Linked DNA regions of Homo sapiens: region 1 is linked to region 2. The links come from fine-mapping of genetic effects on gene expression. A gene starts in region 2. The other region holds a variant in brackets. All regions are shown on one strand. Distances are from middle to middle. Region 1 overlaps PRPS2 (phosphoribosyl pyrophosphate synthetase 2). Region 2 holds the start of PRPS2 (phosphoribosyl pyrophosphate synthetase 2).

Region 1 (5,381 bases), 35 kb after region 2:
ATAACTGTCACTTACCTGAAATGCTGCATCCTAAAATTCCAAAATTATATTGAGCAATCGCCAAGGCCTAAAGCCAACTGACTTAAAGGTAATCATTTCAGCTAAGATTAAATTTAAAGCCTAAGAATGTATAGAGCTAGTTTTAAAATAATGATCTCAGATTTTTAAAAAGGATATAGGAACCTGCATTGTCATTCTCTGAATTAAGAACTGATGGTTTCTATCATTATTTAGCCCCACCTTTGTATTTTAAAATCCTTCAGAATACATTTATGAACCAATGCGACTGGACTTAGCCACACACAATGGAAATTCAGACCTTGACTATTTGGTGTTTCCAGTTCACAAAGGTGATGAAGACTGTCTTGGGAGCAGCTTAATCCCAAAATTTGTACATTTCTTGCTGCTCCTGGCGTGGAAACTTAAGTGAGACCACCAAATACATTGGTCCTGTCCAATTCTACTGAATGGGGGTGGACCTGGCATTTATCTGGCCAAAAACAGGAGCCAGAGAAATATGAATATACCAAAGTTGTTTGTTTAGCCTCCAACTTAAATTACATTAGTCAACTTATAGATACTCATATGATCACTTTTCTTTTTAGATACTACATCAACTAGATTCAGGAGTATATCATTTGCAGTGCTTGTATTGGTTTAAAATGTAAGATTTTAAGATCCTCTAACACTGTACTAAAACATTTCAATAAAATCATTCTGACTGCGTTCATAGTTTGTATGTATCATTGTGGAGTAATATGTTTTGACGGAGTGATGTGTTGCAGTACCTGAAAATGTTTGCTACTTTACGATTATAGGCCAGCATACAAAATTACAGAAAAGCCAGAAGTTAATTGATGTCAGCTGTTTTCCATTTTGAAGGTGTTTCTTCCTGAAGAACTTACCAGCAATCGCCTTTCCTCAAAGCGTAACAGCTGTGCCACATAAGGTGTCCACGTTGTTAATTCCACATGTTTCCTATAAAATTAAAGATGGTACAGTGTGTTCACGCATCAGAGTAGTGATGTTCAATATCCATCTATTGGAGCAAACCAAACTTAAATGTAGGCTGCATAAAACTTGTTCATATTCATTGATTTCAGAAGCACCGAGGAGGATTCCTGTCCCCATAGAACAGCCTGTTCAGTGATACTTCAAACTACTCTCGTGAGCGCAAAGTCAAGTCATAATTACGTTCCCCTGGTGAAGCTCAGCTGTAAAGTATGTGTAACACTAAGAATGGCAACATGGTGTCTTGAAGTCACAGTGAAATATGAAGAATTACATCCAGGTCCATCTGAGAAAAAAGGTGATCACAGTGTGAGAGAACATGATAGAATGTACTAGAAAGGAGGGAAGTGAAGGAGAAGTGAAAGCCAAAGACACTTCATCAGCTTTACAATTGCACTTAATAATGCTGCCACACCTCTTCAGAGACGTTTCATTTCCTATGGCATGTCCTATCTAATCCCCTAGCTGAACTACAGGGGACAGGGAAGTAGTGAAGGGAAAGATGGAGTACTAAGGCGTGCAGAGGTTGGAATCACGCTGGGGATACCAGGAAGGGCTCGGTGATCACCATTAGACGGTTCACGTCGGAATTTTCCAGAACCCTATGGTGTGTTCCAGTGTGGACTGACGCAGGACAGCAGAGGGCGTTTGGTACATGATGTGTTTGAGCAAGGATGTGCCAGGGAAGATGGGAGTTAGGGGCTGAAACATACTCAGCTATCCTGTATCTAAATTGCGTGAAATCAACAGGGCTCCTCCTTCTCATTACCAATATTTATCTTCCTGATTTATCTCCCTGTGCCCCAGGAACACATCCCTCCACCTTTTTTCTGCCCCTGCTTTCCAAGATCACATCCTGGGTGGTTTCCTTTATTGCAGTCTTTGAGCTCTGTTTCCTATTCTGAAAGCATAATGCCCAGGAACACAGACTTCACCACTTACCGGAGTTTAAAAACCAACAGCAACAACGACCTTGGGCTGGTTGCTTAACCCCTATGCCTCAGTTTCCTTACATGTGAGATGGGGATAATAAATGAGACGTTATGTGTAAAGTGTTTAGAATTGCTTGGTTTGTACATTAACTTCAGTTTTTAGAGTGAGCCTCCTGAAACTCCCCTAGAAAGAATGTAAGGTATGAAGAGGCAAGATTTTCATGCATTTTCTAGGTGTTCATCCTAGAGGGGAACA[G/C]ACTGCCCTCCTGCCATTTTAGAAGGGCTACATTGTCTTGGCATGTGACTGCCTCAGTGAAGGGTAGCATTTAGGTGACAAATAGTTGCATGTTAAAAAAAAAAAAAAAAAAAAAACTTGATTATGCTGAAAGTAGTGGTTCTACCAGCATGTCCCGTGGTTCCAGCGCTGGTTTTGCCCACCACATTAACATTTTTTTCGCCCGAGGGCCAGCACTACCAAGTAGAATATGCATATGCTTTTAAGGCTATTAACCTGGGTGGCCTTCCATCAGTATTTGTCAGAGGAAAAGACTGCTGTAATTATCATACAGAAGAAATGCTTGACAAATTATCGGATTCCAGCACAGTGACTCACTTACTCAAAATAACTGAAAACATTGGCTGTCACTGTGATGACCGGAATGACAGAGGTACAGAGGGCACGCTATGGGGCAGCTAACTGGAAATACAAGTACGGCTATGAGATTCCTGTGGACATTCTGTGTGGAATTGCTGATACTACTCAGAATGCTACAATGAGGTCTCTTGGTTGTATGATTTTCATTGGTATAGATGAAGAACAAGGCCCTCAGGTGTGAAAGTATGATCCTGCAGGTTACTGCTGTGATTTAAAGCCACTGCAGCAGGAGTTAAACAAACTGAGTTAACCAGCTTCCTTGAAAAAAAAAAGTGGGCCGGGTGCGGTGGCTCACGCCTGTAATCCCAGCACTTTGGGAGGCCGAGGCGGGTGGATCACCAGGTCAGGAGATCGAGACCATCCTGGCTAACACGGTGAAACCCAGTCTCTACTAAAAGTACAAAAAATTAGCCGGGCGAGGTGGCGGGCGCCTGTAGTCCCAACTACTCTGGAGGCTGAGGCAGGAGAATGGCGTGAGCCCGGGGGGCGGAGCCTGCAGTGAGCCGAGATCGCGCCACTGCACTCCAGCCTGGGCGACAGAGCGAGACTCCGTCTCAGAAAAAAAAAAAAAAAAAAAAGTGCAAAAGAAATTTGATTGGACATTTGAACAGACAGTGGAAACTGCAATTACATGCCTGTCTACTGTTCTATCAATTGATTTCAAACCTTCAGAAATAGAAGTTGGAGTAGTGACAGTTGAAAATCCTAAAGTCGGGATTCTTACAGAAGCAGAGATTGATGCACTCACATTGTTGTTAGTTTACCAAATCCATGATGCCACTTACCTGTGTGTTTGGTAACAAAAAAAACAACATTATGGAGGTCCCTGGATTGAAAAAGGAGCCTCTCCCACTCCTCCTACTACTGAATTGATTAGGACTCTATAAATAAAAGCAATGCTTTTGGTATCTCAGCATTTTAGGAGGCCAAGGCAGGTGCATCACCTGAGATCAGGAGTTTGAGACCAGCCTGGCCAACATAGTGAAACCCCATCTCTACTAAAAAATACAAAAATTAGTCAGGCATGGTGGCGCATGCCTGTAATCCCAGCCACTTGGAGGCTGAGGCATGAGAATCACTTGAACCTGGGAGGCAGAGGTTGCAGTGAGCCATGATCACACCACTGCACTCCAGCCTGGGCAACAGAGCAAGACTGTCTCAAACAACAACAACAGCAACAACTTTCAGCTGAGTGCCGTGGTGCATTCTTGTAATCCCAGCTACACAGAAGGCTGAGGCAGTAGGATTGCTTGAGCCCAGGAATTTGAGACTGGCCTGGGCAACATAGAGAAACCCCGTCTCTTAAAAACAACAACAATACTTCCAGTGGGCTGTAGAAACAACAGGTAGGAATGAATGTCATGTGATTATAGAGATGGTAATCAATTGAGGTCATTTACAACAACCTGATTTCATTGTAGCCCTCATTCACCATCCATCCCATCATAAATACAACCAAAAGTGGTGCCCAATATAAATGGGAAGAACAGTCTTCACTATCCTAACAGCCGAGTTCTGTGGCCAAAAGAAAACCTGGCTGAATGAATTTTACATTTTAAGAGAGTGATAAAAAAAGAGAATAGGAAAGTGAAAAACATAATGCAGTGGAAAATGCCCTAAATTGGAAGTGTGGCGATCTAGATTCTGGTTCCTGATATGCTGCTAGCAAGCTGGGTGACCTTGGGAAAAATGTGTACACCACTCTGGGTATGAGCATCTTTCTGCAAAAATTAGAGGAAAGATGATTGCAGAAGTCCCCAGCAGTTTTAATAGGCAATGCCATTTATGCTAGATGTAGTTGGAATAGTTCTAACTGAAGGCACAGATGGTTGCTCTCAATAGGGTGACCAACTTGTCTTGGTTTGCGTGGGACTTTTCTCGATTTAGCCCTGAAAGACCTATATCTTAGGAAACCCCTCAGTCCTGGGCAAACCAGGACGTTTGGTCTCCCGTTCCCTCTTCTAAGGTGGATAGTTCTGCATCCCCGGCACTACCTTGGTAAGGAATCCCACGAGCATGGCTTTGATCTTGTGCTGGTTGCAAAAACAAGCAGGCTATATGATGAGCCCAACAATGTGCAGGGCACCTGTGGTATCACAGGTCTTTTAAAATCTGTTCAACTAACTATAGAAGCTCAAGAGCTGTAGTCACAAAATCAGAGAGAAAAAGCAGGGGCACCTTTAGAAAACACCTTCAAGCCTGGCTTGATTGCCAGTCCTTTGGCACAGCTACCTTTAACACCATAAGTGGTCTTCAGAGACCCCAGGGAACAGTCCAGGCAGAAGGCAGAGTGCTCTGAAGGTTACCTGATGTACGTTGTCCTTCCGCACATTGAGAGATTCTTAACATTTGTGAGGGCATGGCCATCTGTGTCTGAGGACGTATGATGCTCTGATTTTCCCTACACAAGGAGTGCTAAATCTAGTATTTTCTTGCATGGAAGCTAAGACTGACCATGAATTATGGACATATTTTAAGAACTAAAACTGAACACGTCACTCTTTAAAATCATCCTAATGATTATTTCTGGGCATATTTTGATGTACATTTACCATAGGATAAGCTCAGTATGTGCCATTGACATTTACTCACCCAAGGAACCAAGGAGCGACCCTAAATTTCTTTTCTTTTTCTTCCTTTCCTTCCTTCCTTCCTTCCTTCCTTCCTTCCTTCCTTCCTCTCTCTCTCTCTTTCTTTGTCTCTCTCTTTCCTGTTTTTTTTGAGACAGAAGGTCTCACTATATTGCTCAGGCTGGTCTTGAACTCATAGTATCAAGCAATCCT
Region 2 (5,381 bases):
GGAAATTTCTTCCGTTTCTCAGCCCTAAAATAGTCAGGGATAAATTCACTCAGCAAATACTTAGACTTCTTACTATATACAAAGAACTTGGCTAGATGATGTGGGAAATAGAAGACGTGAAACTGTTCATAAATTCAAATCATTGTTTTACCGTTAATCTCTATCCATGAGTCAATGAAGATAGAAATCAACAATAGAAAATATCTCATCATTTTAATTTTTTCCACTAACATTTTATCTTAAGATAATGTATATTTTATAAACGGTCTGAGACCCAGATCACATATGCACAGAGTATATGTTCTTTTTCTCTTCTAAGTCTTGGGTCTTTGAACAAGTGTTCCATTTTTCCAGAGGCTCCCCAACTTCAAATGTTGTTCAAGAAGTGCACTGTGGTAGACAGTTGGTGGACAGTACTCATGCCCTCCAGTTGTCCCATACCATGTTGACAGCTGGTCTTGGCCATGTAACTTGCTTTGGTCAATGAGACATTAGCAAGCAAGTTAAAAACAGAGGTTTGATAAGCACTTGCTCATTGAGACTTATCTTCTTGGAACACTCCTTGGAACCTTGCAGCCATGCCGTAAGGAAGCCCAAACAACCATGAAGAAAGGCCCACATGGAGGAGAGAAGGGCCAGGGGTTCTTTCAAACTAGTGATTCTCAACCTGTGGTGATTTTGCTCCTTGTAGGACATTTGGCAATGTCTGGGGACACTTTTGGTTGTCACAGTGGTGGATAGGTGCTACTGGCATCTAGTGGGTAGAGGCAAGGGAGGCTGCTAAACAATCTGCAATGCACAGGACAGTCCCACAACAAAGAATTACCCAGCCTAAATATCAGCTGTGCTGAGGTTCAGAAACCTGCTCTAGACCAATGTTTCCCACAACCTGGCTCCTATGGATCAAGGATAAAGGCATTTGGGAGAGAAAGTTTTCACACTTAAATAAAATTATCTGTAGCTGCTCATTTACAAGTGACAGCTTTCTGAACAGTCTGTGACTCATGATGATTTTTCAATGATTCCCATTAGTATTCTCATCAACCCCAATGGCACATTTCACCTTGTTTACATTTAGCATTTAAGCAGAGTAACTCATCAAACTATTGAACCAACAATCATTGTATTAGTTGCCCCAACTGAGATATTGTTTCTCCTTGGTGCTATCAAGTCCATGGTTTGTCACAATTCAATCCGAGCTTCCAAATCTGCAGCCATTTACCCACCCAAAGACCAGGGGCTTTAACTTTTACTGTTTTATAGTCCATCAGCTTTGGTTCTGTGTTACCAAAGAACCACAGCCCCATCATGCTAAGAGGATGCCACTTTCCCTTTGAGAAGAGCATCTATATATTTAGAAGAAACCATTATTAGTCAATTTTATCTATGAGAGAAATATTAAGAATATAAAAATTATAGTAATTTGCTGATAGTAAATTTTATTAGAAGAGTTTAAATATAACTACATTAGCAGACTCAATAAAAATTTTAAACATAGTGGGTCAAGTATAAATCTCATTGCTATGGTAATTAGCTGTGAAATACATAGATAATAAACCATTGCAGATAGGGGTTTTTGTTTGTTTTCTCACATAATAGGGCACATATGCATCTCTAGGCGGAATGAAAAAGGGCCAGAAATGCTGCTAAAATTGTCAGTTTGAATAACTTTTTGATAGGCTGGCAGATACAAAAGTTTACAAGAAACACTCGATGTGCCAAGTAATCTCCTTGCAAAGTACAAGGACCCAGATGAAAAATCCCAATGATGCGAATCATCCCTGTAATCTCCCAAATCCCATTATGAAGTCTGATTAGAGTAGGCTACAACCCAATTGCAAGTGGGCTTTGCTGTTGATGGAGAGCCAATTCGTGGCAAACATTAGTAAAACCAAGCCATTTATCTACCCGGTTGAATCAGCCTTTGTTGAGGAGTGTGAAACTGTGACCAGCATCACCAACCAGCCCTCTATAGACAGGGACTGCTTTCCTTTCTCCTACACTTGGTTTGTGCCCTGAAGTTGGCTCTGGTACTGCATTGGCATCTTGAGAAAACCTTTTTGCTGGTTTCTAGCAGGAAAGAGAGGAAGGAGGCCCTGACTCCAGGGATGTGGAGGGACTGAGCTGGATTGTCTAGGGAGATCTGTGTTCCTGGGATCAGGCCCTTGAGCACCCAACAGGCAGAAGGTTGTGAAGTGCCCCAAGGACCATCACATCTACCGAAAAATGGTGAATCTGGGGGACTTGGTTTGATCCAGTGAGCCACCAAGAGCAATACTTCCCCTCAGCCTGTGATGAGGACTCACATAGTGGTTGGATTTTTTAAGGACACATGGTGCAGGGGCAACTCTGTAGTTCAGGGGTCATCAAGTTTGAACTATGAGGGACCACATGGCCAATATTTACATTTTGCAGACCAAGCAAGAAAAGGGAAGATATTACGTAGGAACTTACATAACAAGAGAGAAAAAATTGTCACAATGTTTTTATTGATATAATCCAAAATACGGTAATATTTGAGTACAATTATTTGCAACTCACATCTATTAATGAGAGAAAAGGAATTCTTTTGCGGGGGGGATATTTCTCTTAATTGGAGTTCAAAGGCGGTGTCTGCTATCATCACATAAAGTGCAAATGTTCATGTATGAAAACCATGCTTAGCTCTCTGGTACAAACACAGGGAGCTCTCGCGATCTGGCCCATAGGCTGTAGTTTGCAGACCCTTGCTATAGCTGAACACCAGTCGCCCACACTGGGTTTGCGGTGTTCCGGGGTGGGAAGTCGCTCCGGGCTGCGAAGCACCTCGAGGGATCCCCCCGGCCCGAACTCTCCCTCTGTGCCCAGCTAACCGCGGTTCATTGGCTCTCCCCGCGAGGCAGGTCTGGAAGATCAAGAATGAAGCTCGGAGCTCTCTCGCGGAGCAAGGACACCTTCGGGCTTCAGGACCACCCAGGGCGTCCAAAACTGCTGCCAGGGCTGTGCCCCCGCCCCCCGGCACTTTCCAGCTCCCCCTCCACGCCCGCTCTTCCTCCCTCTCTGCCCCCTCTAGCTCCTCCTCCGGCTCCTCCCCCTCCGCTCCTCCCCTTCCCTACATCTAGCCGCCGCGCTTTCCCGCTCCCGCAGCAGCAGCCTCCCGCGTCGCTGTCGCTGTTGCCTCCGCCACCTCCTCCGCCGCCGCGCGCCCCTCGGAGTTCCGCGCCCCACCATGCCCAACATCGTGCTGTTCAGCGGCAGCTCGCATCAGGACCTGTCCCAGCGCGTGGCCGACCGCCTGGGCCTGGAGCTGGGCAAGGTGGTCACGAAGAAGTTCAGCAACCAGGAGACCAGGTGGGGGCCGCGCCGGCGGCCGGGCTAGGGAGAGCGCTGGGCACGCGGCTGCGGGGCCGGGTTGGGGGCCGGCGCCTGCCCGGGCCACCTCCGCGGACGCCGCGCTCCCCCTTCCGGGGCGGGACGGTGGCAACGCGGCCTCCGCGCCCCCGCGCCCGCGCCTGCGAAGAAACCGAGGCGGGGCGCCGCGCGTCCCGATGCGCGCCTCGGCTGTGCCCCCGGTTGCAGGGCCTCCGGTCCTGGGACCGCGGCGACCCGGCGGTCCCGAGCCGCTCCCGGCCTCCCAGCGGTGCCGCCCGGCCTGGCGTCCCCAGCCCGGAAGGGAGACGTCTGGGCGGTCACAGACCGTCGGGGAGAGAGTGGGCGCAGCGGGCGGGAACCGCATCGGGTCAGCGCGCGGTGGAGAGACGTCCTGGGTTGGCTGGTCCCAGTTTCCGCGTCCCTACAAAGCTGAACCTCAGACCAGTGCGTGCGACTAAAGGTTTCCCCCCGTCCCCAACTCTGGTTGCACGCTGGGTTTACCTGGGGACGGTCCGAACGCTGCTTCCCCCGACCTGCCCCCAAGGGTTTGATCCAACGGGCGGAGGATCAGCGATTTTACAAGCTTCCCTGGCTTCTCCTGAGCAGCCAGGGCGCAGACCACTGCGTTATCCAGAGGGTGCAGTTGTGCCAAGGTTTGAAAGACTGTGAGAACCCCAGGACGCACGTGCTGGGCTCCCCTCTGCTCCCACTACTCTTGCTGCTTTAAAGATGATGGACTTTCAGCTTCCTTCTTGTTCTAGGACTCTGCTGTGTCCAGCAACAACGCCGTGATTCGACTGTAACTTTCACCCATTTCTCAAGTCCAGGAGAGCCTCAGGTGGTGGCCATCCTCGGAAGCTGACCTGGGGGGCTCCTTTGTCTATCTGCCTGAGTCCACACAGCTCCTTGACTCATTTCAAATTGGTCTCATTTTTCCCCCTTCTTCCTCCAATGTCTAGTACCGTTAACTGTCCACAGTTACTGATAATTTTTATATCTTTGGCAAAGGTTCAATTTTACCAACATTTTCTAGAAATGGTGTTGGAACAGTTGGACACCCATATGCCAAAAAATATGAACTTCCATCCATACTTTTCACCATTTGTAAAAATTAACTTTGAAGTGGATCATAGACCTAATTGTAAAATCTAGAACTATAAAATTTCTAGCAGAAAATCTTGACTTGGGGTTAGGCAAAAATTTCTTAAGGAGGAGTTATGTTAATACTGATGGGGAAGATGCTATATTTTGGCAAGTCAGCTTTTTAGGATATGTGAATCTTACGTGACTTCTTCCAGGTGGCAAATTCCAGTTATGGCTCCGATGATAATATAAGCGAAGAAACATTGTGAATGAGTGGCAGGTGGACTTTGGCTAAAGAATTCCACTCTGCAGTGTTTAATGCAGAAGTCTGAGAGGATGGTCTAGGGCTCTGGAGAAGGATAGAGCTAGGTTTGAGTGTTGCAGTATTTTGCCAGTCTTGTTCAAGTTTCAGTCGCTGTAAGAACACGAGAAGAAGAATAGTTTTTGTTCAGAAGGTGTCGTCATATAAGTAAAGGAGAAATTTGTTGATGAAGTAAATTTTGAAAGCAAATATGTTGCCCTTCCAGGTACTCAGTGCAGCATGATCTTTTGCTAAGGAGCATGGTTAATCTAGATCAGTTCACTGCTAAGTCAGTGTTGAGTTTCTCCTAAAAATACCACATGTGCCACTGGGCAAAACTCACTCAGACACTGAAGTATGATTGTTTATACATTTGGTTCAAATATAAAGCAGACTCACTTTTATTTTGTTTTTGGCATTTTATAACCATCACTTGATAATTAGAAATCGTGGGACCTCAAAAACCACTCAGCATGAAGTTTGGGAATTGCCTATATAGCTACATTTTATGTTTTTAATGTATAGAGTATAAAAGGTTCACTGCCTGACTTTTCTCTTTTCCATGAACTGTACAAGTACAGAGCTTAATTTTTATAAACAGCCCTCTCTGGACCAGTTACTGTGCTAGGAATCCAGCTTTTAGCTG

What was found. PIP is the estimated chance that this variant, and not a neighbour inherited with it, causes the effect.
Region 1: its variant is the best candidate, but not a certain one, in a credible set for the expression of PRPS2 in whole blood (TOPMed, PIP 0.62).

The regions. Positions count from the first base shown.
Region 1 is chrX:12,823,493-12,828,873 of GRCh38, forward strand. It overlaps PRPS2 (phosphoribosyl pyrophosphate synthetase 2), which reads left to right. Exons shown (of 7, transcript NM_002765.5): 7 at 1-730. It also overlaps the pseudogene PSMA6P2. Among named protein-coding and RNA genes, the nearest start is that of PRPS2, 35 kb to the left of the region's middle. The variant G/C (reference allele first, on the strand shown) is at 2,200.
Region 2 is chrX:12,788,290-12,793,670 of GRCh38, forward strand. It overlaps PRPS2 (phosphoribosyl pyrophosphate synthetase 2), which reads left to right and starts at 3,123. Exons shown (of 7, transcript NM_002765.5): 1 at 3,123-3,330. The coding sequence starts at 3,209. RefSeq lists a silencer at 3,379-3,828.